Homo sapiens: one gene and its partners. The protein of the gene in region 5 purifies or fractionates together with the protein of the main gene of each other region. This does not show direct contact. Each region holds a gene or a part of one and is shown on either strand. Other genes may lie near its edges.

Region 1 (4,215 bases), on a different chromosome or scaffold from region 5:
CACCCTCCTCCACCTCCCAAAGTGCTGGAATTACAGGCATGAGCCATTGTGCCCAGCCAAGGGCTCGCTTGTCTTGATGCCAGGACAAAACCCTGCCATGGCTGACCATTGCTTTCCAGTTGCAAAAACAGGGGAGTCCTCTGGGGCTCCTCTTTCCCTCACACCCCAGGTAAGAGCTGTCTGCTGATCACAATAATTCCAAATCTGACCTCTTCTCACTCCGCCTGGTCCTGTCCACTGTTACCTCTTGCCTGGACCAGCCCAGCAGCCTACTCCCTGGTCTCTCAGCCCCTCCTTCCCTCCTCCCAAGGAGCCCGTGAACACCCCTATCAGTTCACATCCATAGCTCCATCTCACTCAGGGTAGAAGCAAAGTCCCCATGGCCAGCCCTCAAGGCCCCACCTGATATGGCCCCATCAGCCCTCTGACGTCCTTGCCTACTCTGCCTACCACTCTCTCTTACACGCCTCTGCTCCAGCCAGGTTCTGCCTCCCAGCCTTGGCAATGTCTGATTCCTCTGCCCCTGATGCATTTCCCTCTCTTTTTTATTTTCTCTGAGACAGGGTCTCATTCTGTTGTCCAGGCTGGAGGACAGTGGCGTGAACACGGCTCACTGCAGCCTTGACTTTCTGGGCTGAAGTGATCCTCCTGCCTTAGCCTCCTGAGGAGCTGGGACCACAGGGGTGAGCCACCAAACCCCACTATTTTTTTTTTTTTTTGAGACAGAGTTTCCTTCCCTCTTGCCACCCAGGCTGCAGTGCAATGGCATGATACCGGCCAAGCCTGGCTAATTTAAAAAATTTTTTTAGGCCGGGTCTGGTGGCTAACCCCTGTAATCCCAGCACTTTGGGAGACTGAGGAGGCCAGATCGCCTGAGGTTAGGAGTTCGAGACCAGCCTGGCCAACATGGTGAAACCCCATCTCTAGTAAAAATACAAAAGTTAGCTGGGCATGGTGGTGCATGCCTGTAGTCCTAGCTACTCAGGAGGCTGAAGCTGGAGAATTGCTGGAACCCTTGAGGCGGAGGTTGCAGTGAGCTGAGATCGCGCCACGGCACTCCAGCTTGGGAGACAGAGCAAGACTCCATCTCAAAAACAAAGCAGAACAAAACAAAACAAAACAAAAAAAACACAAAAATTAGCCAGGTGTCGTGGTGCATGCCTGTAATCCCAGCTATTCTCAGGAAGCTGAGGCAGGAGAATCCCTTGAACCTGGGAGGCAGAGGTTGCAGTGAGCCGAGATCGTGCCATTGCACTCCAGCCTGGGTGACAGAGCAAGACTCCGTCTCAAAAGAAAAAGAAAAAAACATTTTTTTTGTAGCGATGGAGGTCTTACCAAGTTGCCCAGGCTAGTTTTGAACTCCCGGGCTTAAGCGATCCTTCCATCTCGACCTCCTAAAATGCTGCGATTACAGGTGTGACCCAGGACCCTTTGCCATTTCCCTCTCGTAGCCACATGGCTCCCTGTTTTCTTTGCAGACTTTGCTCAAAGGTCACCTTTCCATGCAGCTTTTCTTGACTGTCCTGTTTAAAATTGCAAAATCCTGTCTCCCCCAGCCCAGTTTACCAATCCCTTTTCTTGGGGCCTTGTTTTCTCCCTAGGACCCTTCCCCTGCCACCACACGCTAGAGTTATCCTGTGACTCTATCACATTTCCTGCTCCAATCCCAGCCCTTAGAAGCATCTGGAACATTGTAGGTACTTACTAAATATTTGTTCAGGAATTAGCTTTCAACAAGCTATAACTTGGCCAAGCTACACCAGCTGACATTTATAGAACTTTTACCTCAAGCCAAGAACTATGCTAAATATTTTTAGGAGCAGTTTGGTGAATAGTTAAAGAGCTTGGGTTTTGCCTAAAGTCAAGTACTGGATCGACCACTGGCCAGCTTCTTGTTTCCTCATGTGCAAACTGGGATGATATAAATTGTTCAAAGGCTGGGCAGAGTGGCTCACACCTGTAATCCCAGCACTTTGGGAGGCTGAGGTAGGAGGATCAGTTGAGCCCAGCAGTTCTAGACTCACCTGGGTACGATGGTGAGACCTGTCTCTACAGAAAATTAAAAAATTAGCCAGGCGTGGGGACCTGTGGTCTTAGCTGCTTAGAAGGCTGAGGCGAGAGGATCGCTTGAGCTCAGGAGTTCGAGGCTGCAGTGAGCTGTGATTGCACCGCTGCACTCCAGCCTGGACAACAGAGCAAGACCTTGTCTCAACAAAAAGAAATAAATAAATAGTTTGAGTAATGTTAGTGGTTATAAAAAGGTGTGTCACAGAGACCAGCCTGGGCAACAAAGCCAGACTCTGTCGCAACAAAAAAATTTTAAAAATTAGATGGGCATGGTGGCACATGCCTGTGGTCTCAGCTACTCAGGAGGATCCCTTGAGCCTAGGAGTTGGAGGCGGTAGCGAGCTATGATGACATCATTCTCACTGCAACCTCCACCTACAAGTTTCAAGTGATTCTCCTGCCTAAGCCTCCTGAGTAGCTGGGATTACAGGCGTGTGCCACCACACCTGGCTAGTTTTTGTATTTTTGGTAGAGACGGGGTTTCACCATGTTGGCCAGGCTGGTCTCGAACTCCTGACCTCAAGCGATCCACCTGCCTTAGCCTCCTAAAGTGCTGGGATTACAGCGTGAGCCACTGCGCCTGGTCTAGGATTTCCTCTTTACAGATGAGAAAACTGCGGTGCAGAGTGTGAAGTGGGTTTTTGTCTGCAGCCTCCAGTCTCCAGTTCACAATCTCAAATCCAGTCTCTAACTTACCCCTAGTTTCTTTTTTCTTTTTTTTTTTGAGGCAGTCTCGCTCTGTCACCCAGGCTGGAGTGCAGTGGCACGATCTCAGCTCACTGCAAGCTCCTCCTCCCGGGTTTACGCCATTCTCCTGCCTCAGCCTCCCGAGTAGCTGGGACTATAGGCACCCGCCGCCACGCCTGGCTAATTTTTTGTATTTTTAGTAGAGACGGTGTTTCACTGTGTTAGCCAGGATGGTCTCAATCTCCTGACCTCGTGATCCACCCACCTTGGCCTCCCAAAGTGCTGGGATTACAGGCGTGAGCCACAGCACCCGGCTGTTTTGTTGTGTTTTGAGACAGGGTCTTGCTCTGCAGCCAAGGCTGGAGTGCAGTGGTGCCATCACGGCTCACTGCAACCTCTGCCTTCTAGGCTCAAAGGATCCTCCTACCTAAGCTTCCCAAGTATTGGGGACCACAGGTGTGTACCACCACACCCAGCTAATTTTTTGTATTTTTTTTTTGTAGAGATGGAGTTTTGCTGTGTTGCCCAGACTGGTCCTGCACTCCTGGACGCAAGCAATCCGCCCACCTTGGCCTCTCAAAGTGCTAGGATTACAGGCGTGAGCCACTGTGCCTGGCCTTACTCTGGGTTTCTTTCTAATCCTCTCAGATGCCTCCATAAAAAACAATCCTCCCCAAGCCCTAATGGATAAACTCCAAGCTCCTTAGATGACAAAAATCTTTCTAATCTTTTACCTTGACATTTGAATATGGAGGGAAGATTAAACTCTAATAATTAGAGGCTGGAAGATAATTAAAGTGTGACAATAGCACTGTGGTGCTGGAAGAGAAAAGTCCTTTTTCTTGGGACTTGCCGAAGGTGTCTGTGGGTGTGCAACTCCATTTCAAATAGTTTAGGAAGTCTGGGCGCAGTGGCTCATGCCTGTAATCCAGCACTTTGGGAGGCCAGATCACTTGAGGTCAGACCAGCCTGCCCAATATGGTGAAACCCCATCTATACTAAAAATACACACACACAAAATTAACCAGATGTGGTGGCAGGCACCTGTAATCCCAGCTACTCAGGAGGCTGAGGCAGGAGAATCCCTTGAACCCAGGAGGTGGATGTTGCAGTGAGCCAAGATCACGCCACTGTATTCCGGCCTGGGTGACAGAATGAGACTCTGTCTCAAATAAAAACAAACAAACAAAAAACCCAAATAGTTTAGGAGAACAAAAACAAAATCTATTTGTGTATGTGTATGTGCATAGATAAACCAATTACAAAACACAATCACAATTTTAAAATCAGGAATATGGCTGTTGGCCAGGTGCAGTGGCTCAGGTGTAATCCCAGCACTTTGGGAGGCTGAGGCTGGTGGATCGCTTGAGTCCGGGAGTTCGGGACCAGCCTGGGCAACATGGCGAAACTCTATCTCTACCAAAAATACAAAAATTAGCCAGCCTTATAACCCGGTCTCAA
Region 2 (4,215 bases), on a different chromosome or scaffold from region 5:
ACGAAAAACACAAAAATTAGCCAGGTGTGTCAGTGCAAGCCTGTAATACCAGCTACTTGAGAGGCTGAGGTGGGAGAATTGCCTGAACCCAGGAGGCAGAGGCTGCAGTTAGCCAAGATTGCACCACTGCACTCCAGCCTGGGTGACAGATCGAGACTGTCTCAAAAAAAAAAAAAAAAAAAAAATTAGATTTAAGAGTATTATCCTATGCAGGCGTTGTTATATAAACTCAGCCAGGTCCCTCCCATTCAGCAAAATTATCTTAAATCCTTTTTAGAATAAAGTAAAACATAAATAAGCTTTAAAAATATTTTCAAAAGCCAAGAGCACAGTAGCACACACCTGTAATCTCAGCTACTCAGGAGGCTGAAGTGGGAGGATAGTGTAAGGATTGTGTGAGCCTGGGCAACACAGCCAAACTCCATCTCAAAAAAAAAATTTGTTTTTAATCTGTGAGCCTTTCTCATAAGTAAATTAAGGAAATTAGACTAATTTTTGTGGGCTCTTCTATAACTTTTAAATTATATGGTTATTCTAAGACCATTGGTCAACACATAAAATCTTAAAATGATAGTACTATGCAAACCCAAAGGAAAATAATTCATTCTGTCAAAGATACGTTATATGTTCATTGCAGTGCTATTCACAGTAGCAAAGACAGAATCAACCTAGGTGCCCATCATCAATGGACTGGATAAAGAAAATGAACATATGTACTAAGGAATACTATGCAGCCATAAGAAAGAACAAAATCATGCTCTTTGCAGCAACATGGATGGCACTCTAGGCCGTTATCCTAATAAAACTAATGCAAGAACAGAAAACCAAAGCCCCATGTTCTAACTTACAAGTGGGAGCTAAACTTTGGGTACTCACAGACATCAGATGGGAATAATAGACACTGGGGACTACTAGATGGGGGAGGGATGGGATGTGGCCTGGGCTGAAGAACCACCTGTTGGGTACTATGCCCACTGCATGGGTGCTGGGGTTGTTAGGACCCCAAACCCCAGCATTACACAATATACCCACGTAACAAACCTACACATATACCCTTTAATCGATAAAGAAAGTTGAAATTATTTTTTAAAAAAGAAGAAATTACCAGGCCAAAAAAAAAAATCTATATACTGCTGATGATACTCACTATTAACGTATTACATCAGATTTTTTGCCTCAGATGCTCCTAGAACTTGTACTAAATCTGGATATCTATCCTTTGACTAGGTGCCTCATTAGATTTCATGCAGTTTCAAATTTTAGATTTCAAATTATAATTCTGATTTGATGGATGGATCCCAGGTTGTCCTTTTTGCTTTATGTTTTTATGTAAAGAGGCAACAGTTCAGCAATAATTTATATTTATTTTGAATGTAATTTATTTTTATGTATCAACTTTGCCTTTTCAATACTTTTTTTTTTTTAAGAGACAGGGTCTCACTGTGTTGCTCAGGCTAGACTCAAACTCCTAGGCTCAAGCCATCCTGCCACCTCAGCCTCCCAAGTAGCTGGGACTTGGGTCCCAGTTACACAGGTGTACGCTACTGCTCCTGGCAGCTTCTGAATATTTTGCTTAAGCAGATGTTAATTACTTTCCCTGAAGAGATAAGATTTGACCATAACGTTCATATATAAATAATCAAGGGTTGAACACCAGGCAAAATCTCATTATAGTATTGGATATCTCAGTTGTTTTCATGTTGTGATTTTTGGAAGGATACAGTTCTAGAATCTTAGCTGGCCTCCTTTCACTCAAAATGAAAAAACTAAGTGCTGTGATGAGAAATAGGCAATGAGATCATAACATTGACCTTATGTCAGTTTCTGTGTCCAAACTCTCAAGACTTTGTGTTGTTTTTCTTTGTTTTGTGATTACTAAAGACCCACTGTGTATCCAATACTGATCACTCAGTAGAAATACAGGTATAAAAATGAAAGACATTGTCCTTAGGAACTTAGAATATAACTTGGGGAGAAAGGACTTACACACATTAAGGAACTATAAGAAAAGAAAAAAAAATGACAACTTAATCAAACTCTGAGTAGTGTAGTGTAGTATTAACAACAATGAAATGTATGAAGTGACTAGCCCCAGATTGACAGATGGCTTCCTACAGGAGACGAAATAGAGTGTGGCTTGAAGTTGAAGAAGGTAGAAAGGAAGTTCTGATTCAGCAGTTTAATATGAAAATTACATAAGTGAAGGACCGTGAAAATAGAATAAATTATAAGAATTAAGATTGGATAGTCAGGTTGAAATAATGTGTCAGGATTTATACTTGAGATAAATATATAGTTATAAAAGTATTTGGCTTGTAATTTTTAAGAGCATGCTAACTTTGTATGTGTATGTTGCAGGAAAGAGAAAAAGTAATGAAATGATCACAAATTTAGGCAAGAAGCAAAAGACTGATGTCAGTACTGAACATCCTCCCTTTTATTACAACATTCACAGACACAGCATTAAAGGAATGAATATGCCAAAGTAAGACACCCAGTGAATGACAAAGTATATATATTTTATATTTTAATAATATTGTGATTTAAATAAAAATACAAGAACCTGATTATTTTTTCTTTCCTTTCCTTTTTGCAGGTTAAAAAAGTTTTTGTGCTATTTATCTCAAGCAGGCTTTCGAGTAAGCCGAACTCATTTTGACCCAATGGGTGTACGCACAGATGCACCTCTGATGCAGTTTAAATCTATCCTTTTAAAGTACAGCACCCCCACCTACACTGGAGGACAGTCAGAAAGCCATGTCCAGTCAGCATCTGAAGATACAGTAACTGAAAGAGTTGAAATGTCAGTGAATGACAAAGCAGAAGCAAGTGGCTGCAGAAGATGGTAAACGTAGAGAAGAATTGGTTCTCAGGTGTCTGTATAGATGGCCTAATAGTTCTCTATACCAACTGTAGTTCTTTTTCTGTTCTTTCAATTCAGTAGAGTAAAAATAAAAAACAGTGTCATTTTCATTCAGAAACTGAGCAGTTTCTAACTTAGCTGGTTTGGGAGCTTTGCTTTCCAAGTTTTTTTTTGTTTTAAGGCAAACTTAAAATTTTAATGGAAACATTTCATATGAAGCCAAGTCTCACTGAGATCACCCTACTGCTTAATAATTCAGAAAATTTTCACATGCAAAGTGTTTGGAATTTTATGTATGTTATGAAAGCCATCTTTTACAATTCTTAATCACATCTCTGCCTAAACTGATTCATGATGTTTATGTTTTCCTGTTTGTAGTGTACAAAATGAAGCTGAAGGCTCACATGTTAAAATGACCCTGAATAGAATAGGAAGAACAATGTTCTTACAGGTCATAATGTATTTCACAATTAAAAAACTAAAATATGTACCCATTTTTAAGAAATCATACTTCTCTCCACATTGATCTTTTCATTTCTTACTAGCTTTTAAGAAATTAAATACTTGCCTGAGATAGAAATACTTTATTTTTGTAACTTTAAGGTCTAAATGACTAAACTTCAAAGTAAGATTTTGTCAGAATAAATTGAGACCATTAATCTAATATAATACTTGTTCATGAGCACTGAAATCCTGAAGAGGAGAGATTTGGTTATAAATTAAAAAGGTTGGGTGATCTTAAGTGCCTCAGTTAATGCACGTACAGTATTCATTTGGTTGGTTGTACTACCTCTCAGAAGTAAAATTTGTCACCTTATGGAATGAGAGTTTTTGGGTTTGGGGGTTGTTTTTTTGTTGTTGCTTGGTTTGGTATTTTTGGTTTTGTGTGTATTTGTATAAATTTTCTGTATAATTAGCCCAGGCTGATGTAACTATAAAAATTAGTTGAAAAAAAAAATATTGTTTCCTTAATGGAATTCTCACTTCATTTGAATATAAGATTTTGGATGAAAGGATTTGGTATAAAGTTTGGGTTTTTGTCTCAAGGATTTGATCCATATTTATCCCTAAATATTTCTTAAGGGATGTAACTTTTTATAACCATTAAGTGGGGGGAAGGGGGTGGAGGGGGTGGTAATAATTATAACTGAAAGGTTTAAATATACTACCTAAGAAAAAAGTACTTCTGTGACATATACAAAAAAATCTAGTGGATAGGCATTAGATGAATAGAGAATATTAATTTTGCAGAAATGAAGGAAAATCTCTTCGTGCTAGTACAGCGTATTCCCAAGAGAGTTTATTTTCCTTTCTCCAATTAATGTGGTCATAAATTTCGGTAAAATCAAGAA
Region 3 (4,215 bases), on a different chromosome or scaffold from region 5:
TAACATCAAAATCTATCACTTACCTGATGCAGAATCAGATGAAGATGAAGATTTTAAAGAGCAGACTAGACTTCTCAAGGTAAGAACTGGCTTCAGATCCACAACATAAATAACTCCTGTTTACTGTTGTCCATGTTGAGGTGAGAGAGATTGCCTGGGTATGTTCAGTTACGAGAGTATTTTTGCTTTCAATATATTTTAAGACCTCATGCAGTGGCTCATGCCTATAATCCCAGCACTTTGAGAGGCCAAGGCAGATGGATCAGTTGAGGCCAGGAGTTCCAGACCATCCTGGCCAACATGGTGAAATCTCATCTCCATCAAAAATACAAAAATTAGGTGGATGTGGTGGTGCACACCTGTAGTCCCAGCCACTCGGGAGGCTAAGGCAGGAGAATCACTTGAACCCAGGAGGCAGAGGTTGCAGTGAGCCGAGATCGCGCCTCTGCACTCTAGCCTGGCGACAGAGCAAGACTCTGTCTCAAAAAAAAAAAAAATTTGATACAGCTATCACCTAAAGCTTAGAAATTTTATTGTAGGTTTAATTTGTTTTCGTACAATTTGTCCCATGTAGAAAGTATCTGACACTTTTCAAGAAAATGTTACATACCCCCAGCTTTCCAATTCAGTTTTGTAGTCAACAGCAATGTGTTAAGTCTGTGCTAATGTTCTCGTGTTGCCAGTGAACTCTGGGGTTCCCTGTGTGGAGCCTGTCTACTCTGTGTGTCTCTTTCTAGGCTAGCATCCCATTCTCTGTGGTTGGATCCAATCAGTTGATTGAAGCCAAAGGAAAGAAGGTCAGAGGCCGCCTCTACCCCTGGGGTGTTGTGGAAGTGGAGAACCCAGAGCACAATGACTTTCTGAAGCTGAGAACCATGCTCATGTAAGACATTTGGTGTGTTCCTTCTGGCAGAATTTGGCGTGAAGAATATGGATTTCAGACGGGGTGTACACTTGGCCCCCAAGATAGTTGCAGCCAGCAGCTTCATTGCCGCCCTCAGTGTTTCTCACATCGCAGAAGTGGTGTGGGGCTGTTGCAGATTGGTGCTGAGAACCCTCACCCAGGGGCCCTCTGTGGCACTACTAAACTAGCGCTTCTGCCTGTGGCCTGTAGCCTGCAGTACCTTTCCTTCTTGCTAAGATCTTACATCTTTGATGTTAAAAGGAGAAAAGGAGACTAGAACCTAAACTGGGGTCTGAGAGGTCCCCAGTGCTGGTAAGGAAACAGTCAGGCTGTATAGGCCCCTGGTCCACTGCTCCAGGCTGAGCCACCCCTGGTGCCCTGCTCACCAGTCTGAGACTCATTGTATGGCCCTGGTTAGCTTTTTGTGTCTTCCATTTATTATTAATAGCAATTACAGACCTGACTACAAAAATAGTCTTCTTTAAAAATGAATTTCATGGCTGGGCGTGGTGGCTCACACCTGTAATCCCAGCACTTTGGGAGGCTGAGGCAGGCAGATCACGAGGTCAGGAGTTCAAGACCAGCCTGACCAACATGGTGAAACCCCATCTGTACTTAAAGTGCAAAAAATAAATTAGCCAAGCGTGGTGGTGCGCACCTGTAATCCCAGCTACTCAGGAGGCTGAGGCAGGAGAATCACTGTTGAACCAGGAGGCAGAGGTTGCAGTGAGCCAAGATTGCACCACTGCACTCCAGCCTGGGCGACAGAGCGAGACTCTGTCTCAAAAAAATAATAAATTAAATAAATAAATTTCACATATTGTAACATGCATACATTGCTTTTACTCTTGAAAAAAGAGGCTGAGGCCGGGTGCGGTGGCTCATGCCTGTACTCCTGGCATTTTGGGAGGCCCAGGCGGGCGGATCACTTGAGGTCAGGAGTTTGAAACCAGCCTGGCTGACATGGTGAAACCAGCCTGGCCGACATGGTGAAACCAGCCTGGCCAACATGGTGAAACCCTGTCTCTACTAAAAATACAAAAAAATTAGCCGAGTGTGGTGGTGGGTGCCGGTATTCTCAGCTACTTGGGAGGCTGAGGCAGGAGAATCGCCTGAACCTGGAGGTGGAGGTTGCAGTGAGCCGGGATTGCGCCACTGCACTCCAGCCTGGGCAACAAGAGCAAGACTTCATCTCAAAAAAAAAAACCAAAAAGAACAGGCTGAGAGTATTGCTTAAACTATACCTCTTTAATCAGAGGACTTCAAAGAATGACTGATGTGGATAAATCAGTGTTTTGATTAGCTGAAAGTCGCTACATATTTGCCGCATGTCTCACTTAGTTTAGCAATTTGTAGTGAGTTAAAATAAGTAAGCATGTTACCATCCAAGCTGTGTCAAACACAATTTAATGGTTGTGTAAGAAGTTAAGCGCACTCAGCCCCTCCAGGGCTGCATCCTTGTGGCTATCCTGATCCCCATTATTGAGGGGGGTGTAGAGGCTGAAGACAGGGTTTGGGGACTTTACTTTAGTGTCAGTTGTGTGTTTCTCACAATGAGGTAGAGTGAGCCACTCCTTGGCTATCTCAATCCATTTCCCTGGATCCTGAATCAATAGGAACGTGTTACAATGTTTGCTCATTCTTGCCTGCTTTTAAGTATTTTGAATAAGCTAGGCAATTAAAAAAAATTTTTTAAGAGTGCTTCATAAGATGAATGGAAGGTTAAGTTGCTGACTAATATTCTTGGATCCAGAATATTAGTCCTTCACTTTATGGTCTTGTACATAGCTTAAGCTAACCAACTCTTTTTTCTCATATGAGAGTAATATATAAATTTTGAGTTATAGGAGGCATGAATATTTTCATTACATTTTCCGTAAGTCCTTTTAGAAGAGTGTCTTCTATTTCAGACATTGTTGACCTGAAAATCTCTTAAAATCTGTCTGCCATCCTGTGGTAGTGATGGCCTCACACAGGGGTGGCAGTGCCTCTAGCAGAAATCCCCCTGAGAGACTCAGTCGAGACCTGTGTTTGTATATCATTTATTGGGGAAGAAAGGGAGAGCTACACCTCACTAGACATTTCCACGGCCATACTCATTATCCTGAAATCCCAGCAGCTTTATGTACAATTTACCAAGTAATTTTAATTACTGCTATTTCTTCTATGTACTTGATGGGTGGTTTTTTTTCTCATGAGAATGTCATGTGCATGATGCCACCTTGGTGCATTCCTCTTCTCTTTCAGCACCCACATGCAGGATCTCCAGGAGGTGACCCAGGACCTTCATTATGAAAACTTCCGTTCTGAGAGACTCAAGAGAGGCGGCAGGTCATCACACTGTGCCCCTTTCTCTGTATTGTGTCACCCTGAGCCACAATGTTCCTCCTCCTCTATGTGTTCAGCTCAGCCTTCTTGACCATTAAGCAACATGGTTTGGTTTCCTACTCAAAAGTTATTATAAAAGAGTTGTTAATTTAATCAAATTATGCTCTTTTAGCCTTTTTAAGAAAAAGTACATTTAATGATATGCACGTAAAAACTTTAGGCCAGGCACGGTGGCTCATGCCTGTAATCCCAGCACCTTGGGAGACCAAGGCAAGGTAGATTGCCTGAGCGCAGGAGTTTTGAGACCATGAGATTACATGGTGAAGTCCCATCTCTACAAAAATTTAAAAAAAAAAAAATTAATTTAGCCGGGCATGGTGGCACACACCTATAATCCCAGCTACTCGGGAGGCTGAGTTGGGAGGAGCAGTTGAGCCTGGGAGGTGCAGTGAGCCATAATTGCACCACTGCACTTTATCCTGGGCAATAAAACAAGACCCTGTCTCAAAAAACAAACAAAAACTTTAGATGGAAAGGCCAGAGGCTTGTGTCGAGTTCTCCTTCAAAAGCATCACTCTGTACGTGAGGACAAACTTGTTGCCATTAGGAAACTGCAGCACCTGAGTTAAGGGTGAGGCCAGGATGAGTGGCATCCAAGCAGCCAGTGGCCGTTGAAGCAGCAGCTTCGATCCTCGCAAAGTCCTGCAGCCATCCTCACTCACCTTTTCTTTTTAACCATTCTAATATGTTTTTATATAAGTTTTCTGGGAGGCCAAGGCAAGTGGATCACTTGAACCCAGTAGTTTGAGACCGGCCCTGGCAACATAGGGAGACCTCGCCTCTATAAAAATTTTTTTTAAATTAGCCAGATGTGGTGGTGCATGCCTGTGGTCCCAGCTACTAGGGGGAGGATTCCTTGAGCCCAGTAGGTCCAGGCTGCAGTGAGCTATGGTCGCACCACCACGCTCCAGACTGGGCAACAG
Region 4 (4,215 bases), on a different chromosome or scaffold from region 5:
ATATTTAGAAGAGTAGTTATCTGTGCTATGAGTTTGGTTGGTTTTTTGGCCACAAATTGACTAAATTTCTTCATGAATTTGGAAGTCTCTTATATCACAGAACCTGAAGAAAAGTACTTGAAATGTTTTAAATTTTGAATCAGTTTTTTTTTGTTGTTTTTTTGGGGTTTTTTTGGAAGACTTGAGTTTCGCTCTGCCACCCAGGCTGGAGTGTGGTGGCACAGTTTCGGCTCACTGCAACCTCTCCCTCCTGGGTTCAAGCGAGTCTCCTGCCTCAGCCTCCTGAGTAGCTGGGACTACAGGCGTATGCCACCATGCCTGGCTAATTTTTTTGTATTTTCAGGAGAGACAGAGTTTCACCATGTTGGCCAGGCTGGTCTCAAACTCCTGACCTCGGGTGATCTGCCCGTCTTGGCCTCCCAGAGTTCTGGGATTACAGGTGTGAGCCACCACGCCTGGCCTGAATCAAATTATCTTTGATATCATTAGAGGTCTTACATTCTACTGGCAGTTGTTTGAGTGCTAAATTGAAGATCTTTTACTTTTTATAAAATGCCTCTTTAGTCTTACTTTCTACCAGTTTCTAAAACTACAATAAATTTTTTAACCAACTCTCCACCTAAAAGTGTTTTCTTTTTTGTATACAAATCAAACTTTGATAGACAAGCTTAGTTGCTGTTAAAAAATGGATTAAAATTTTTTTACCGTGTTAAAGGGCATAAACTTTGAGCTATAATCTGAATAAATTCCAGAGATCCAGTATACAGCATGACTATAATACTGTATACTTGAAATTTGTTAAGAGACTGGATCTTCAGTGTTCTCACCAAAAACAAATAAATATGTGAGATGGATAGTTATTAATATGATGGGTGAGAATCATTTCATTATGTGAGGTGCAGTAAAGTGAAACACAATAAAATGAGGTATGCCTGAGGTCAGGCACGGTGACTCACACCTTTAATCCCAGCACTTTGGGAGGCTGAGGCGGGTGGACCACCTGAGGTCGGGAGTTGGAGACCAGCCTGACTAACATGGAGAAACCCCATCTCTACTAAAAATACAAAATTAGCCAGGTGTGGTGACACATGCCTGTAATCCCAGCTACCTGGGAGACTGACGCAGGACAATTGCTTGAACCTGGGAGGCAGAGGTTACGGTGAGCCAAGATTGCGCCACTGCACTCCAACCTCGGCAACAAAAGCGAAACTCCGTCTCAAAAAACGATATGCCTGTATGTTAAAACATCGCATTGTACACCATATACATATATGTATATATATAGTTTGTCAGTCATGCGTCAAGTTTTGTTGTTGCTGGACAGTAATTCTGATTTTAGGTGGGTGATTTTAAATTTTTTTTTTTTGACTAAGGAAACTTCTTATCAAATTAACTATTTGCAAATGTGTTCTTTTTAAATGATACGTGCGTGTGTGTGTGTATATATATATAAAACTCGTTTTCCACTTGCAACAAATTACAGTTGTCATTTAACTGACAACTGTTAAATGACAATTTGAAAAGCAAGATACTGCTTTTCATTCTTTACTGTTTTGGTTGTAAGTACTAGCTTTGGTCACTACTGTACATATGGAAACTAAATTTATTTTTAAATCTAGCCTTGGTACTTGATTCTGCATCAGTAGTAAGCCTTTATTTTAAAATTAAAACTTGTCCATGCTACTTTTAAAAATGAAAATAATTAGGGACCAGGTGCAGTGGCTCATGCTTGGAATCCTAGTGCTTTGGGAGGCCGAGGTGGGAGGATTTCTTGGACAACATAGTAAGATCCTGTGCCCCCCCCAAAATTATTTTAATTTTAAAAAAGGAAAGTAATGAATGTAATTATATTAAAATATTTTGATTTACGTTGAAGTATCACTGTAGCTTACCTGCATATTTTTGAAAAACATAGTACATCAGTGTGTAGAAAAAAATTATTTGAACTAAATCAGTTTGTTGACAATGGTGTATTTATATACAATGACTAAATCAGTGGTGTATTTATGTGTAATACTAGAAACTGCACATGTCAACAACCCCACTACAACCTGATAATAAATATCTTACATGATGTGACAGTTAACGTAAAGTGTAGTCTTACCAAAGTAACGAAATGTTTAATGGGAACATATTTTAAAATGCATCAATACTTAAAATAATTAATTGTAGTAGTCATAGTATGTCAGTTTTTAATAATCTTGGGAGTGGCTACTATATTGTACGGTGCAGGTCTTATTGTCATTTTCTCGACTTTGGCAGAAATTGATAAAGAAGGTGTGATTGAACCAGACACTGATGCTCCTCAAGAAATGGGAGATGAAAATGCGGAGGTAAGTTCGGTGACTTGATTTCCTGCTTGTTCTAAGAAATGTGAAAGGTCCTGCTGTTGCAATGATTTTATGACACGATTCTTCCAGGAAAAGCGCATAGTAAATCTTTCTCTGACTTCAGGCGTTTTAGGCAAGCATTGTATTTTACTACTTAAAATACTAATGAAAATAAATACTGTTACTTTCTGTTTTATCTGTTTTTTAAGTTTGCATCTGGTGTGACTGCTTGCACTGTAACGCAGAATTCACTTAAAATACATACCTATTAGTGGAGTTGCTCTTGATGGAATATCTAATGCCAAATTGTATTACAGAATGGTTTGTCATAACAGGCCCTCAAGGGAGTGAAAATTGGTTCTTGGGAGGAGGGCTTAAAAAAAATTCTATATATTACAATGGTTAGTGGTCCTCCAAAGACTCATAGAATATTAATATGTAGTGTATCTGTGGTATTAAAATTGGGGATATGGAAATGAGGAAAAGATGTCTAAAAAGGCTCCTTAGTGTCTGATAAAAATTTGAGAAACACTCTAATATAGTAATAGCAGTTTTAAAAGATTGGTTTTTATCCTCAAAACTTGATATTATCAGATTTCATCTTTGCCAAGTATTGTGGGAAATGGTATCTTTTTGTGGCTTTTAATTTGCATTTTCCTGGCCAGACAGGGTGGCTCACGCCTGTAATCCCAGCACTTTGGGAGGCCGAGGTGGGTGGATCATCTAAGGTCAGGAGTTTGAGACCAGCCTGGCCAACATGGTGAAACCCCGTCTCTACTAATAATACAAAAATAAGCCAGGCATGATGGTGCACGCCTGTAATCCCAGCTACTTGGGAGGCTGAGGCAGGAGAATCACTTGAACCCAGGAGGCAGAGGTTGCAGTGAGGTGAGATCGCACCCCTGCACTCCAGCCTGAGCGACAGAGCAAAACTCTATTTAAAAAAAAAAAAAAAAATGCATTTTCCTGATTCCTAATGAGGCTGAGCATATTTAAATGTTTATTGGCTGTTCACTGGCATTTGCGAACTCCTGTTTAAACTTTTTCCACTTTTTGCTGGATCTTTTTCTTACTGCTTTGTATTTCATTTCAATATTCTGGATGCTAATAATTTGTTGCTAGTGCTGCATATATTTTCTGCTAGTTTGTGACTCATCTTCACTCATCTTTCTTCATGTTGTTTCAAAAATAGTATCTTTTAATGCAGATATTTTCTGCTTTATTACTTTGAGGTTATAATTGCTGTAGTGCATTGCTTTTTCTCTTCTGAACATTTTATACACTCACCTTTCACCTTTAATCTACCGGTCCCACCAAAACTAAAATACACTGTTTCTGAATATTGTGGGTCTGTTTCAGGAGTTTATTGTTCTGCTTGTCTATTTTTTTTCTGTTCACTAATGCCACATCGTCTGATACTAAGTCTTGTTATTTTGTAGAACAAGGACCCCCAAAACTTTTTAGTCTTTTGGCTGTTCTTGGCTTTTTGTTTTTCCAAGTAAATTTTAGAAATAGGTTGATCAAGTCTCCCCGCTTCCATTGGTTTTTTTCCCCTTTGTTAGAATTGTGTTAAATCTAAATCAAGTTCGGGAAAAGATATATCTCCTCACCATTGAGATAAACTATCCATAAATAATGTTATCTGCCCAATTTTTAGGTGTTTTTAAAATATTTTAATAACTTACTAACGTGTTCCCCATAAGTCTTGTGCTTTGTTTTTTTGAGACAGTGTCTCACTCTTCCATCCAGGCTGGAGTGTAGTGGTACAATCATAGCTCACTGCGCCCTTGACGCCCTGGGCTCAAGTGATCCTCCCACCTCAGCCTCCTGACCAGCTGGGACTATAGTCATGCACCACCATGTCCAGCTAGTTTTTTATTTTTAT
Region 5 (4,713 bases):
AATTTAATTACAGTGAAAAAGTCCTTAGTAGTTTGTGAATATATTTACCTCCTCTAGCTTTTTGCAAAATCTAGCTATTAAATTGCAGCTCTCAGATTGTAAAGGCAAAATGCCTAACATGTTGTCTGTTGATCAAATGAACCCAGCCTGGGCAACACAGTGAGACCGTCTCGTCTCAAAAAAAAAAAGAAAATACATAAAATGTTTGTGGGAGGTGATCTCTGTGTGTGTGTGTGTGTGTGTGTGTGTGTGTGTGTGTGTGTGTGTTCTTCACAATAGGACAAATTTATCTAGAAATGTAATGGTTCCCAGATGTTTATTTTTTTAAAAAGTCAAGATGTGGTGATAGCCAGGTATTTGTCTCTAAAGTGAGAATGATGTTATTCCACTTGGAGTTTATTGACACAGAACTTCCTTTTGTCTGAGAAATCTTCAGCACTGTGAATATGGCTTTAATTAAGAGATACACTCATCACTTGTTGATTTTGTTACAAGGGAAGAACTCCTCTAATGTATGTGGATTGCTTTGTGGACCACAGTAAAACATATAAAGGACCACCGGCAATGTATTGTTTTGTATCTACTGCATTCTTATATTCATTTCTGAAAACTACTGTTTAGAAAGTTCTGTAGGATTACTGAAGTACAAAAAGTATTTGGATTCACAATCCACTTTTTAAAGAGAGGCCACATTGTGGTTATTGACATTAAAAATGAATGTCCTAACCCATACTTGTGGGGCTAAATCTTTGAATATCATTTTAAAACATGAGGAAATGTCTTCTGAATTTAGGGAAGTCACACATAGATCCCAGTTCCTCTAATAACCTTTGGCAGTTTATTTGTTCATAGATTTGTGGCAAATTCTCTGGAATCATATGATCTAAAGTACAAATCATTGTCTCAAAATCTAAGGCATGATATGCACATGGGAATCTTTAAGTACTTGTCTGAGTCTATCTTCAAGTGATATCTGATAAGACCTAAATTACAGTAGTGTTGTGGGACGAAGAAAACAACCCACTCTACTTCAAAATCTTAACCACTTGACTCCACATCCATTGAACCATGTAATTCTTAGTTCTCCACTCAGCTTCTCTATCTGTTAAAAGAGATAAACAGATCTAAAACGCAGCTTCTGTAATTCAAGAATGAGTAATAAGGAGCTGTAAAGTGTGCACTCAGCTGACTTGGAGATTAATGGGAATAAAAAAAAGAGTCAGTAGATCTAAAAAGATGTGTGGAAAGGAAATTTCTCTGCACACAGGATCTGCCAATTTGTGAAAGTTCTCGACTGTTTATAAACACAAGGGCCGTAACTCTGCTAATGACAAAAGTGGAAAACTGTCCAAATAATGCTAAATGAATCACAGTTGTTCTCAATTATTTGGATATTTAATTCACTCCTCTGAGTTTCCAGTTTACACCAAGCCAACCCCCCCAACACCACGGGCCCACCCGGGGGGTCCTGATCCCTGCACACACCAGGTCATCTCTGTTGGGCCCCGGCGCTCTGGCCCGCGCCGGTCTTGGGCCCCAGGGTAGCGGCCACTGCGGGCGGAGCAGAGGGAAACACCAGAGTCTGTGACTCCAGACAGGACCCACTGTGTCCTCTTGAACTTTGCACAGCGCGTGACGGGGGCAGACGGTGCACCGTGGCCCGGCCTTTCGCGGGGGTCCTCGGGGAAGAGAGAGGAGCGCGGGTTTCCTCGGAGGCCTGAGCGGGACGCAGCCTGCAGCCCCTCCCCGCACGGGCTGCCCCCGGCCCGCCGCTCGCGCCGCTCTGCTGGGATCCGGCGCCTTCCCCGGCTGTCCTCGGCCTCCCGCGCGCTCCGCGGGAGGAGCCGCCAGCGGCCGTGACGCGTCAAGGAGGAAACGCCGGCGCCCGGCGGCCCTGCCGGGAAGGAGGAAGCGCAGTGCGTTCGGCTCCGCGCCCGCCGCGCCGGGAGCAGCACCGCGGGGCCAGGTAGGTGCGGGGCCGGCGGGAGGGTCCGCGCGCCCGGGACTCCGACGGCGGCCCGGGGCGGGAGGAGACGGGGCGGGGCGAGGGCTGCCCGGGCCTCGGCCGCTGCCTGTCCTCGGAAAAAGCCGTACCTCCGCCCAGCCCCCGGCTCCCGGAGAGTTTGTGGTCTTTGTTTCCACGAGGTGAATTCAGATCCTGCCTCGAGATTCCTAAACGCCCAAGGGGCGTCGGTGGCTGGACCTTGTTAACCCCCACGCAGCCGCCGAGCCTGGAGGAACTGGGAACGCCGAGCAGGGAGACCCTATCTGAGGTCGAAAGTGGGTGCAGGTCACCTGCGAGGGTCGGGGAGGGGGCAGCCGCCAGAGTGGGGTGGATGGAATCGTTTAACCTGTTGTCAGCGGATCTGTAGTAAAAGACCTTAATACGTTGCGTCTTTTAAGTTCTCTGTAATTTGAACCCTTACGTCTCTTCAAGTGAATCTGGCCCTATTAATTCTCACAGTTTTAGCTTTGGAATGTACCCACAAGAAGTGCTTTGAGATTTTTAGATTCTGTCATTTTTAGTCATCGTTACTTGGAAAGAGAAAAGAGAAAGGAATCATCTCTTGAAACTTAAAACGCTTTCATTGAGTTGTGCACAGTGACTTCTGAACCATGAGTAGAATTTCAGTCCTGCACCAGAGACTACTTAGTGTGCACTTGGGTGCAAAATAAATACAGAGCACTGTAATTTCTAAATCTTTTGTCAAAGTGAAAAATAGACTGTTGTGTATTTTGATTCTCTCCCTTCTCACCAGATTGAGACTTCACCCAGCCAATCTGGGAGGTGCCTTTTTTTATTTACCAAACACTTACATAGCCCTTACTATGCGCTGGGCTCTTTCTAAGTTCTTTATAAATATTAAATCAAATTCTTAACTTATCATATTATAGCGGTTCTAGCAATGAAGAGGCTATCCATACTTTAGTTCCCCAAATGTCATTGGAAGAGCTGTAAACATTAGAGGAAGTTTTAGGCATGTTTTAGCACCGGGTGTGCCTTCTGGTCCCCTTGGCTACCACTTCTGTAAGACAAGCCACCACCCCAGCATTTCCCTGGGGTAAGGGAGCCTGGAGCTCCTGGGAATGCGACCTGTTCAAAGCAGATGTTGGCCAGAACCTGAATGACTTGTGTAACATGGTCTCTTTCAACTGCCGTTGTGCCCATCGGCTAACTCTGGAGACACCAGAACTTCCCCTTCTTTAACTGCCACTGCATGGAGCCTACTTTTGTTTTTGAAAAGAGCTTTGTTCCTGATCTGTTCGACACTGTTTATATGACATTATTTATATGACATAGTTTAGATATGAGGGTCAGATTGAACTTGAAATGTACTATAAAATAGAACATTTTTGTTTGCACACATCAACATAACAAATAACGTTTTGTAATTTTACTGCTATTTGCTCTTGGAAACATTGAATTGGTAGGTCAGCCTCATAGGTGTACCTTTTGTGATTTGCAGATATGCAGAGAATATTTTTTCAGAATAACATGCCCTCTTCAAATGTGCACCATTAGAGACCCAATGTGGTGACTAAGATAGACATGATTCTTGTTATTGTGACTATGAATGTAATGTCAAAATCTGCACATCAGACTAGCTTTCTGACTCCCTCACTCCCTTTCTGTGCCCCCCTCCCTTATCTCTCTCTCATATATTTAACTTTTCAGAGAGATGATTAAGTGAGCCGATAAGCCTTATTTAATAGGATTATGAAGTGTCTCTTGAAGCAAGAAGGCTCATGTTCCTCTGATATATTAATAATTTATGACACAACAGGCATTAGTGTCATTTGTGAATTCAGTTTAGTCGGATGACCCCTAGCATTTTCATGGCTTACAAAGTGCTTCCAGACATACTCCTTTACCTTTCAGAGAGATCTTGTATGGTTGATCTCTTAATTACTTTTTATTACCTGTTTTTACAGATGAAGAAACTGAGGCATGGAAATGTTAAAGTGCTTTAGCCTGGATTGCACAGCAGGTGAGAGGCAGAGCTTGAATGGAGGGCAGGTGTGTGGACAGTGCCTGGCACGTGCAGGCCTGTAATAAACATCTGTGGAATGAATGACTCCAAATGGCTTCAGATATCTTGCTCTTTCAAAACATGTCTCTCAAAATACCGTAGTAATTGATTTATGCCTGAGAGATTTCCAGGCCTAATCCAATGCCTCTCTCATTTCAGACAGTATCTAATACAGCACATTTTCTACAAAAAGGATGGGAATCCCTTTGGACTTATTTCTTAAGATTTGCCACCTCTGGTTTTTGAAAAAGAAAATAGGTTGGGTATTTTTTTCATCCTACCTTTTTTCTCTAGTTTTGAGAGTTTAGAACGGACACATGGTATTTATGTTTATGTTGACAGCTTGCTTTCTTTCTTTCTTTCTTTGTTTTTTTTTTGAGACAGAGTCTTGCTCTGTTGCCCAGGCTGGAGTGCAATGGCGCAGCCTAGGCTCACTGCAACCTCCGCCTCCCGGGTTCAAGCGATTCTCCTGCCTCAGCCTCCCGAGTAGCTGGGGCTACAGGTGCATGCCCCCATACCTGGCTAATTTTTGTGTTTTTAGTAGAGACAGGGTTTCACCATGTTGGCCAGGCTATTATCAAACCCCTGACATGATCAGCCTGCCTTGGCCTCCCAAAGTGTTGGGATTACAGGCGTGAGCCACCGTGCCTGGCCACAGCTTTCTTATCTTTCTAAACTACTT
Region 6 (4,215 bases), on a different chromosome or scaffold from region 5:
TTAATTTTACATAAACACACTCGAGGATGAAACAAATCTGACTGATTTTCAGTGGAAGATAAAATAAAAAAACTGTTCTTGGAGTTATTTCTAAACAGAACTTGTCTCTTATCCTAACGTAACAGAAATGTATATGATGCTACATTAGGATTAGAGACGAGTATTCTCAGGGCAAACGGGAAATGGGTTAAAAATTGTCACACTTTTTTTGTTTTCTTTCCACTAGGAGTCAGAAGAAATTAAATCAAATGAGCTTGATGCAAAGCTTAGAGTCACAAAAGGAGAACTTGAAAAACAAATGCAAGAAAAATCTGACCAGCTAGAGGTGAGTAGTTTTGCTCTTTATATATCCTAAGTTGCATAATAAATACAGAAAGAGAAATAGTGAGAACTTATTGCTATCTACTTTTAAGGCCTTTTGGAAGGAACAGGCAATAAATCTTAGATATAGTTTAGCACATTATGATTTGTTGTTTCTTTTAAACTTTTTTAAAGATGCATCATGCCAAAATAAAGGAACTAGAAGATCTGAAGAGAACATTTAAGGAGGGTATGGATGAGTTAAGAACACTGAGAACAAAGGTAATTCAGTCTTTAGTCATGAATCCAGAGGAAGGGTAAATATCTTAAATTTTGAATTCATTCTGATTTTTAAAGTGGTGGGGAAAGGACATTAATATAGAAATGTTCCATAATAAAGGAACTCAGTAGAGTAGAGGAGCAATTTCCTAGCAACTTCTTTTGTTGAAAGGAAAATGTCTTCCATGTTAGTCCCTTTGAAGTGTTTGCCAAACATTACTATTTCACAGCACATTTGCTGTGTCTATAGCTTATCCTTGGGCTTCTCATCTAAAGGCAGTCTCATCAACGAATCAATTGGAAAGATAGTTGGACCTTAGAACTGTGTCAGAAAATAACAGGAAGGCTATATTTTTCCTGGATATATTTAATAGATGGATAGTTTTAATGGCCAATAATCTGTTAAGTCCTCTTCGTGTTTATAGTCTTTATTGTAAGATTAGTATGTCTTCTAATATGAATATGAATGTGTATCATTCATTTATTTAGAAGTAGTCCTTTAACCACCCTGAATTTGAGGTCACTTAATAATTTTAAATTGTTTTTCATACACCTTCTTATTTGTTCTTCTTGCCAGTTTTTTGAGGTAGAGGAGATATATTCTTTTTCAGGTGAGGAGATGGTGATTCAGTAAAAAGTGAAATGACATGCTAAAACTCCCATGACTGAATCATAAGAAATCTGAGACTAAAAGCTAGGATTGTAAACTTCGCATTATATTTTCTTCACGTTAATGGTGCTTTAGAATTTTTAGATTATTCATATGTAACCACTATACAAAATAGTTTATAAAGAACAAGAATACATGGTTTGTAACTTGGTTGTGATCATTTGATAGGTGAAATGTCTAGAAGATGAACGATTAAGAACAGAAGATGAATTATCAAAATATAAGGAAATTATTAATCGCCAAAAAGCTGAAATTCAGAATTTATTGGACAAGGTGAAAACTGCAGATCAGCTACAGGAGCAGCTTCAAAGGTACAAAATGAGCAACTTCTGTTTGTATTAATAAGCAAGCTTTTAAATTTTATTTCAAGATTTTCTAAATGCAGTTATTGCATTAAACAAAAAATTTTACAATTTTACTAGCTGAAATTTTTAAATATTTTCTCTTTATCTGAACTTCTTTGGATTATCTTTTGAGTTCTGTCATGGCTTCTAAAAATCAAAGTTTATATTCCTTAAACATTGGTAGTGGCAATTTATAAGACAGAATAGGTTGAGTCTCTTATCCATTCCTTAGCTTTCAAATTCTGTTACTTATGCACAGTGTTTACTTTTTCTTCTAAAAGGTAAATCTTGCTCTAGATCTTCGCACGTGTGTAGCTTAAGATCCGGAGCTGACATTATTCCTTGGCTCCTTATAAAACCATTTAAGTAAACTCTACTTGTGACATTACCAGACAGAACCTGGATTCAGTTTGAAGCCAGATAGCTTCTTTTCCACACCTTGCTGATAACTAAGCTGCTGAGTGTTGCTAAAAAAATCCTTACCATCATTTAGATTGATTCTGCTAATAAATTCATGGTCACTAACCTGAACTGGAAATATTAATGCACCTAATCTTACCATGTGTCTTTGGTCAGAGGTTCTCCACCATCTTCTAGCATCTTTTCTAAACCCTACCATTTTCTTCACACTTCAGTTTTTCCTCTTACCTTTCTATTTACTCTTGGCAAGTGTTTACTTCTTCACAGAAAAAATGGGAGCTGTCAGGTGACAGTTGTCTCAACGTTTTGCCATCAGTCCCATGAACTGCCTGCATCTGCAGCCATATTTTCTGCTGTTATCATGGAAGAAACAATCTTGTTATCATGGAAGAAACTCCTCTGAATCAAATTAGTCTTTCTACTTCCGCTATGGATTTCATCTCTTCTGACTTTTTGGGTTCTGTCTTGATTATTCTTCTTTATCCTTTATGTCTTACCTTTCTCCACTTTCTTTTTCTTTCTACATTTAAACATAATTGTCTTTTAAAAATATCAAAACTCCTGTGGCTTTGCCCTGCCAGCTTTTCTCCTTTCCTTTGCAGCCAAACTTTATATAATCTTCTGTATTCATTCTCCGTTTCCTCACTTCCTATGTTCTGTACCTCTCCACTTCATTCTAGCTTTTACCCCAACATTTTATTAAAAATTACTGATGTATCCCTGCATATGGTAGACACATTTCAGACCCACCCTTGCTTGAATTCTTATCATCTTTTAACACTGTCGAATTCAGTTGTCTTTCTTGATAGGCTTGTTCCTTTGGCTTCATTTCCATCACATGCTGATGTTCCTCTCACCTTTTTGGCAACTCTCTCTCAATCTCCTTGGCAGGCTTCTCTTTCTCTCATAATGCCCTCTTGTTCTAATTTTATTGTAACTTTGGGTGATCCCAACTATTTTTATAGTATGCTGCAGGACTTTTGAGTCATTATCTTTAGCCCTTTTCACTAAGCTCCAGGCACAAGTATTAAAGATACCTCAAACTTTAGCATTTCCAAAATCGGTTTCTCTGTCCCATGCTTCTCCTCACATGTTCCTAGGATGAATGATGAGTGCAGCATCCATGTGACTGTCCAGCTTAGCAGGCTGGGGGCCATCCTCAGCTCTTCTTTCCTTCCCCTCACACATCTAACCAGTCACAAAGTATTAGTGATGCTAAGTCTGTAACATCTGTCAAGTCCATTCACTTTTTACTTCCCTGCTGCTACTACCATAGTCCAAGCTATTAGCAGCTCTCACCTGGAAAACTGCCACAGTTTGTATTTTTTCTGCTTATATCCTCTCTAATCTGTTTTCCACACTATGGTTAGTATAATCCTTTTTAAAAGGAAATTTCAAAACTCTTCATTGATTTCCCACTGCCTCAGAGATTGTCTAGTGAGTTCCATTGCCTTAGCATGGCTTGTAAGATTAGTGACCTGTCCCTTGCTGCTTCCATGCCTTCCCTTTTTTCACCCTTGTATTTCAGCTGTAGTTGATTAACAGATGTTTATGGATTGTTTCCTATTTCCCAAACCCTGTGTTAAGTGCTAGGGATATAGTACAGTCTTTCTCTTCATCAATATTGAACATCTGTTAGGACCAACAAGAAGCCTCTTATTCCCTTCCCAGTTTTTAGCACATACTGTTTGTTCCCTTTACCTGGAGCATATTTTGTTCTCCAGTAACTCCTGCTTTGCCTTTAGGTCAGGGATCAACCATGGCTTACAAAACAAATCCAGCCCACTACCTCTTTTAGTAAGTGAAGTTTTTTTGGAACACATCCACACTCATTCATGTAATATCTGTGGCAGTTTTCATAGTACAATGGCAGAGTGGAACAATTGCAGCAAAACCATATGACCCAGAAGCCTAACTTATTTACTATCTGATCTTTTACAGGAAAAGGTTGCTGACTCCTGCTTCAAGTATTAGTTTGAGCATCACTTACACTAGTTTAGGCAAACCCACTCTGTGCTTTTATCATAAAAAATGTTTTTTTACACATATAATTTCCACACTTGACTAAAAGCTCTTTGAAAGCAGAGGCCATGTTGGTCTTGCTCACTTTTCTTTCCAGCTCTTATTTCCTGGCATATATTAGGCATTTATAAATATTTGGATGAATGAATAGAAGTACCTTTATTAAGCATTTGACTAGAT
Region 7 (4,215 bases), on a different chromosome or scaffold from region 5:
CTCTGACAGGTGGGGTGGGTTTGTGAGGGCTGAGGTAGCAAGCCCTGCAACCCTGGGCCAGCGTCTTTCCATCAAGGGACCCCTTGGAGCCCAGCCCAGGAGCCACAACCCTGGCCTCTTAAACTTGTCAGGGGCTTTTGCCGAGGGAGCTGTCTCAGTGTTTGGGGGCTGGGCACTGATCTCACAGTTTCTCGAGCCAAAGGCCCTAACCAGTTGCCTCTGATCCCATCACTTTTTTGCCCCTTGTGGAAGTTGTTCTGAAAACCTGGGACATTTGGGGCTTCATGCACCACGTGTCCTGTGGCTTGTAGCAGGAGCTTTGCTCTGGGGTGATTCACAGGTAGAAACAACCAGCAGTCCAGGTCATCTCAGTTTTCCTGGACGCAGCAGCTTCATGCACAGAGGCAGCAGGCAGGCCAGCCCTTGCAGCGCCTGCTGGAGAACAGAGCTGCTCAGTTCAGCCTGCTGGGACCAGCATGGGTGAGAAAGGAACCCAGCACCTCGCCACCTGCCCCATGCTCCCAGAAGGGAGACTGTGGGTGGAAAGCGGCTCCTGGGAGGAGTGAGGGTCACTAGCAGGTGTCATTGTCCCAGTATGTCACATCCTGATCTCTTCCCTTTTGATGCTGTTGCTTGCTCTGCAGGAGTCCCCAGAGCCAGGCAGGGGGATGAACCGCGAGGGAGCTCCCGGGAAGAGTCCGGAGGAGATGTACATTCAGCAGAAGGTCCGAGTGCTGCTCATGCTGCGGAAGATGGGATCAAACGTGAGTGCCTGTGGGGTGTCAGGCAGCGGGCCCCCAGGGAGGGTCTCCCAGGGAGGGGCCCTGCTGGGCTATTGGAGGGTGGAGCCACTGCGGCTGCCTCCTGCGGAGCCACGGGCTGAGGAGGGGCCGCTGGGCCTGTGGCTTGGCTCTAGGGCTGCTTCTGGCCCCCTAGGCACAGAGCCCAGCACGTCAAGTTCTGGGGACACCCGACACTGCCGGATTGGGGCCAGGCGGGTGAGGGTCTCAAGGCCCTGACCTTCCTTTTCTCCCCCTCACAAGCCCGAAAGTCTTCTCTCCCAGGGGGCAGCTCAGGGACAACTTGTCAGGACAGGAGCTGAGGGGGCAGCAGGCATGCATGTGCAGGGGTATTTCTCAAAAAGAGTGGAGGGACATGGAATCGCCCCTCAGCCTTCCGGGCAGGACTTGTGTCTTCCACTGGCCCTATACTAGAACAGACCTTAATCTCAGATTCAGTCTGAGTGGCAAAGGCTTTGGACCCCTGGACCAAGTTTAAGGAGGGTGGGAGTGGGGTGGGCTGGCCCTGAAAGCAAAGGGGTCAAATCTCAGAAACAGAAGCCCGAGCAGGGACCAAGCAGGGACCAAGCAGGCCTAGGCGGTGCCTCTAGGGGTGCAGGTGCCTTTCAGGGAACAGGTGCATGCTGCCCCTCACCACAGCTCTCTCACCCTGCAGCTGACAGCCAGCGAGGAGGAGTTCCTGCGCACCTATGCAGGGGTGGTCAACAGCCAGCTCAGCCAGCTGCCTCCGCACTCCATCGACCAGGGTGAGTTGGCGGCAGAGGGGCTGGGGCAGTGGCACAAGTCCCAGGGGCACCGACTTGTGGTTCCCTTAGAAAGCGTAGCTCCAGCCCTCTTTGATGGGTGATCCATGAGACCCAGGGCTGACTAGGAGGGGCTACAGCTCTCTCCACCCACAGAGCTGAGCCAGGAAACCTTCGGAGCCTCCCACCTGATCCCATCTCCTTCCTCAGGTGGGAGCCAAAGACTCTACAAGACAAATGGCAGGATCCCTTTCTAAGGCCTGGAAGAGGCAGGAAATGGAGATGTCTGGGGGCGCTCATAACTGCAGAGACTGATTATTGCATTTCTTTAACCTTTGGCCTGACCCCTACCCACCCAGCACCCTGTCCAGGAGAGAGAAACTGCCCTTGTGTGCTAGAACAATGCTGTCACTGTTGTCCTGAGCACAGACCACATTGTGGCTGGTGTGGTCCTGGCTGTGGCCAGGAGGAATGCCCCAAAGGCCTGATGTCTCCGTGCGCCTGAGGGAGTTCTGTCTTTTTGGGGTGACCTCAACAAGTCAGCATGGTAACAGGCAGGATGTGAGTGTTTGTTGTGTAGCAGGCACCGTTGTTTCATTCTATTGTAGGTAGCTACTATTTGTATTATTAATACTTCCACTTAACAGGCAAGGAAACTGGGATTTGGGAACAGTAAGCCACTTGGTCATGCAGCCAGGTGGTTACTGGGGAGTCCCGGGATGTACACCTGTGGCTGAGGAGCGCTTCACTGTCTGCCATCTTGCCCATAACCCACATGGCTACTGGACAGCTCCATGTCCCTTGGCTGCTCAGCAAGGTTCTCCTTCTCTAGAAGGCTTCTCATGACACAGAGGCCTAGTATTCTGACCAGCATCTCCATAGAGTCCTTTCCTTTTATTCTCTTTATGCTTTGTTGGAATGATTGGCCATGAAATATTACAACCTGTGGCATGTCCAGACGCGAGCGGGCCCCCGAAAGCAGAGTGCTGACGGCTGCGTTTGCTGTGCTTTGAGGCTGGCATGCGGGGCCTGACCTAGATCACCAGCCAGCCCTTGTTCTCCTGGATGTCTTAGGGCTCTGTCCTGGCACAGGGGCCTGTTCCCAAGCACCGATGCTGGGTGTGACCTGGCTTGTGCACCCAACTCAGCAGAAACCTTCCAGGCAGTGGCTCAGGCAGCTCCCTGGGACAGCAGCTCACCACGCACAACCTGCCTGGGTGTGTCTGCCCAGGTGTGCCTCCTGGATCATGCGGCAGCCTGTTCTATGTGGCGTCGGCTCCCGCCCCATCCTGGGATCTCTTGGGTGAGGTCTCTTCTCTTCCAGGGCTAATCTGGGTTTCTAGCATGGCACCCTCTACCATGGCTTCTGACTCATGTCAACCTGAAACCTTCAGGCTTCTGAGTCCCTGGAGACTCACCTTCCTTCCCACTTAGTCTTGGTCACTGAGTTAACCTGAATTTGAGCTCGGATGGTAAGAAAGCCTCCAGTTGAATACTCTTGGGAAAAAATCAAAATAGGAGACATCAAAATGTAGGACCATATGTCAGTATAAAAAGCAGCAACAGGCCGGGTACGGTGGCTCACAGCTGTAATCCCAGCATTTTGGGAGGCCAAGGCAGGTGGATCACCTGAGGTCAGGAGTTCTAGACCAGCCTGACCAACGTGGCGAAACCCCATCTCTACTAAAAATACAAAAGTTAGCTGGGCATGGTAGCATGCAGGTGTAATCCCAGCTACTTGGGAAGCCAAGATCTCACCGCTGCACTCCAGCCTGGGCAGCAGAGCAAGACTCCGTCTCAAAAAACAAAACAAAACAAAACAAAACCCCAGCAACAACACACATACACACAAGACACAAGCTGTATATGCACATAGAAAAAAAAGCTGGTGGCCAGGTGCAGTGGCTCACGCCTGTCATCCCAGCACTTTGAGAGGCCATGGCAAGAGGATTGCTTGAGCCCAGGAGCTCAAGACCAGCCTGGGCAACATAGGGAGACCCTCTCGCTACAAAAAATACAAAAACTAGCTGGCTGTGGTGGCACACGTCTGTAGTCCTAGCTACTAGGGAGGCTGAGGTGAGAGGATCGCTTGAGCCCAGGAGGTTGATGCTGCAGTGAGCCATGATCGCACCACTGCACCCCAGCCTGGGCAACAGAGGGAGACTCTGTCTCATAAATTTAAAAAATTTTTAAAAGACAAAGAAGCTGGTGGAATATATACCAGACTGTCAGAAATTTTGTTTTTGACAAGGGGTGCTGGGCGTGGTGGTTCATGCCTGTAATCCCAGCACTTTGGGAGGCCAAGGTGGGCAGATCACCTGAGGCCAGGAGTTCAAGACCAGCCTGGCCAACATGGCAACATCCTGTCTCTATTAAAAATACAAAAATTAGCTGAGCATGGTGGCAGGTGCCAGTAGTCCCAGCTACCCAGCTACTTGGGAGATTAAGGCAGGAGAACCGCTTGAATCTGGGAGGCGGAGCTTGCGATGAGCCAAGATCACACCACTTTACTCCAGCCTGGGCAACAGAGCTAGACTCTGTCTCAAAAAATAATAATAATAATAATTGTTAGGGGATAGGACTATATAAGAAACTTTAACTTTCCAAGTCACACATTTTTGTAAAACTAATATTTTAACATTGTACATTTGTTTCTTTGTCATAAGGGAAAG

The links.
Region 1: the proteins of SGK3 (region 5) and BLVRB purify together in Homo sapiens (affinity purification with mass spectrometry, with the first as the bait; one large-scale study listed by BioGRID). This does not show direct contact.
Region 2: the proteins of SGK3 (region 5) and TRMT1L purify together in Homo sapiens (affinity purification with mass spectrometry, with the first as the bait; one large-scale study listed by BioGRID). This does not show direct contact.
Region 3: the proteins of SGK3 (region 5) and SEPTIN2 purify together in Homo sapiens (affinity purification with mass spectrometry, with the first as the bait; one large-scale study listed by BioGRID). This does not show direct contact.
Region 4: the proteins of SGK3 (region 5) and ST13 purify together in Homo sapiens (affinity purification with mass spectrometry, with the first as the bait; one large-scale study listed by BioGRID). This does not show direct contact.
Region 6: the proteins of SGK3 (region 5) and CCDC186 purify together in Homo sapiens (affinity purification with mass spectrometry, with the first as the bait; one large-scale study listed by BioGRID). This does not show direct contact.
Region 7: the proteins of SGK3 (region 5) and CTNNBIP1 purify together in Homo sapiens (affinity purification with mass spectrometry, with the first as the bait; one large-scale study listed by BioGRID). This does not show direct contact.

Annotation. Positions count from the first base shown.
Region 1 is NC_000019.10:40,451,775-40,455,989, forward strand, and holds part of BLVRB (flavin reductase (NADPH)), read right to left. Parts: intron 1-4,215. UniProt on the Homo sapiens protein: Enzyme that can both act as a NAD(P)H-dependent reductase and a S-nitroso-CoA-dependent nitrosyltransferase. Promotes fetal heme degradation during development.
Region 2 is NC_000001.11:185,118,653-185,122,867, reverse strand, and holds part of TRMT1L (tRNA (guanine(27)-N(2))-dimethyltransferase), read left to right. Parts: intron 1-2,358; coding exon 2,359-2,485; intron 2,486-2,596; coding exon 2,597-2,849; 3' UTR 2,850-4,215. UniProt on the Homo sapiens protein: Specifically dimethylates a single guanine residue at position 27 of tRNA(Tyr) using S-adenosyl-L-methionine as donor of the methyl groups. Dimethylation at position 27 of tRNA(Tyr) is required for efficient translation of tyrosine codons.
Region 3 is NC_000002.12:241,343,015-241,347,229, forward strand, and holds part of SEPTIN2 (septin-2), read left to right. Parts: coding exon 1-79; intron 80-737; coding exon 738-883; intron 884-3,151; coding exon 3,152-3,235; intron 3,236-4,215.
Region 4 is NC_000022.11:40,842,957-40,847,171, reverse strand, and holds part of ST13 (hsc70-interacting protein), read left to right. Parts: intron 1-2,262; coding exon 2,263-2,333; intron 2,334-4,215. UniProt on the Homo sapiens protein: One HIP oligomer binds the ATPase domains of at least two HSC70 molecules dependent on activation of the HSC70 ATPase by HSP40. Stabilizes the ADP state of HSC70 that has a high affinity for substrate protein.
Region 5 is NC_000008.11:66,710,868-66,715,580, forward strand, and holds the start of SGK3 (serine/threonine-protein kinase Sgk3), read left to right. Parts: upstream 1-1,913; 5' UTR 1,914-1,966; intron 1,967-4,713.
Region 6 is NC_000010.11:114,132,258-114,136,472, reverse strand, and holds part of CCDC186 (coiled-coil domain-containing protein 186), read left to right. Parts: intron 1-226; coding exon 227-325; intron 326-495; coding exon 496-582; intron 583-1,417; coding exon 1,418-1,560; intron 1,561-3,954; coding exon of another isoform or gene 3,955-4,081; exon of another isoform or gene 4,082-4,215.
Region 7 is NC_000001.11:9,868,518-9,872,732, reverse strand, and holds part of CTNNBIP1 (beta-catenin-interacting protein 1), read left to right. Parts: intron 1-340; exon of another isoform or gene 341-480; intron 481-644; coding exon of another isoform or gene 645-668; coding exon 669-764; intron 765-1,455; coding exon 1,456-1,546; intron 1,547-4,215. UniProt on the Homo sapiens protein: Prevents the interaction between CTNNB1 and TCF family members, and acts as a negative regulator of the Wnt signaling pathway.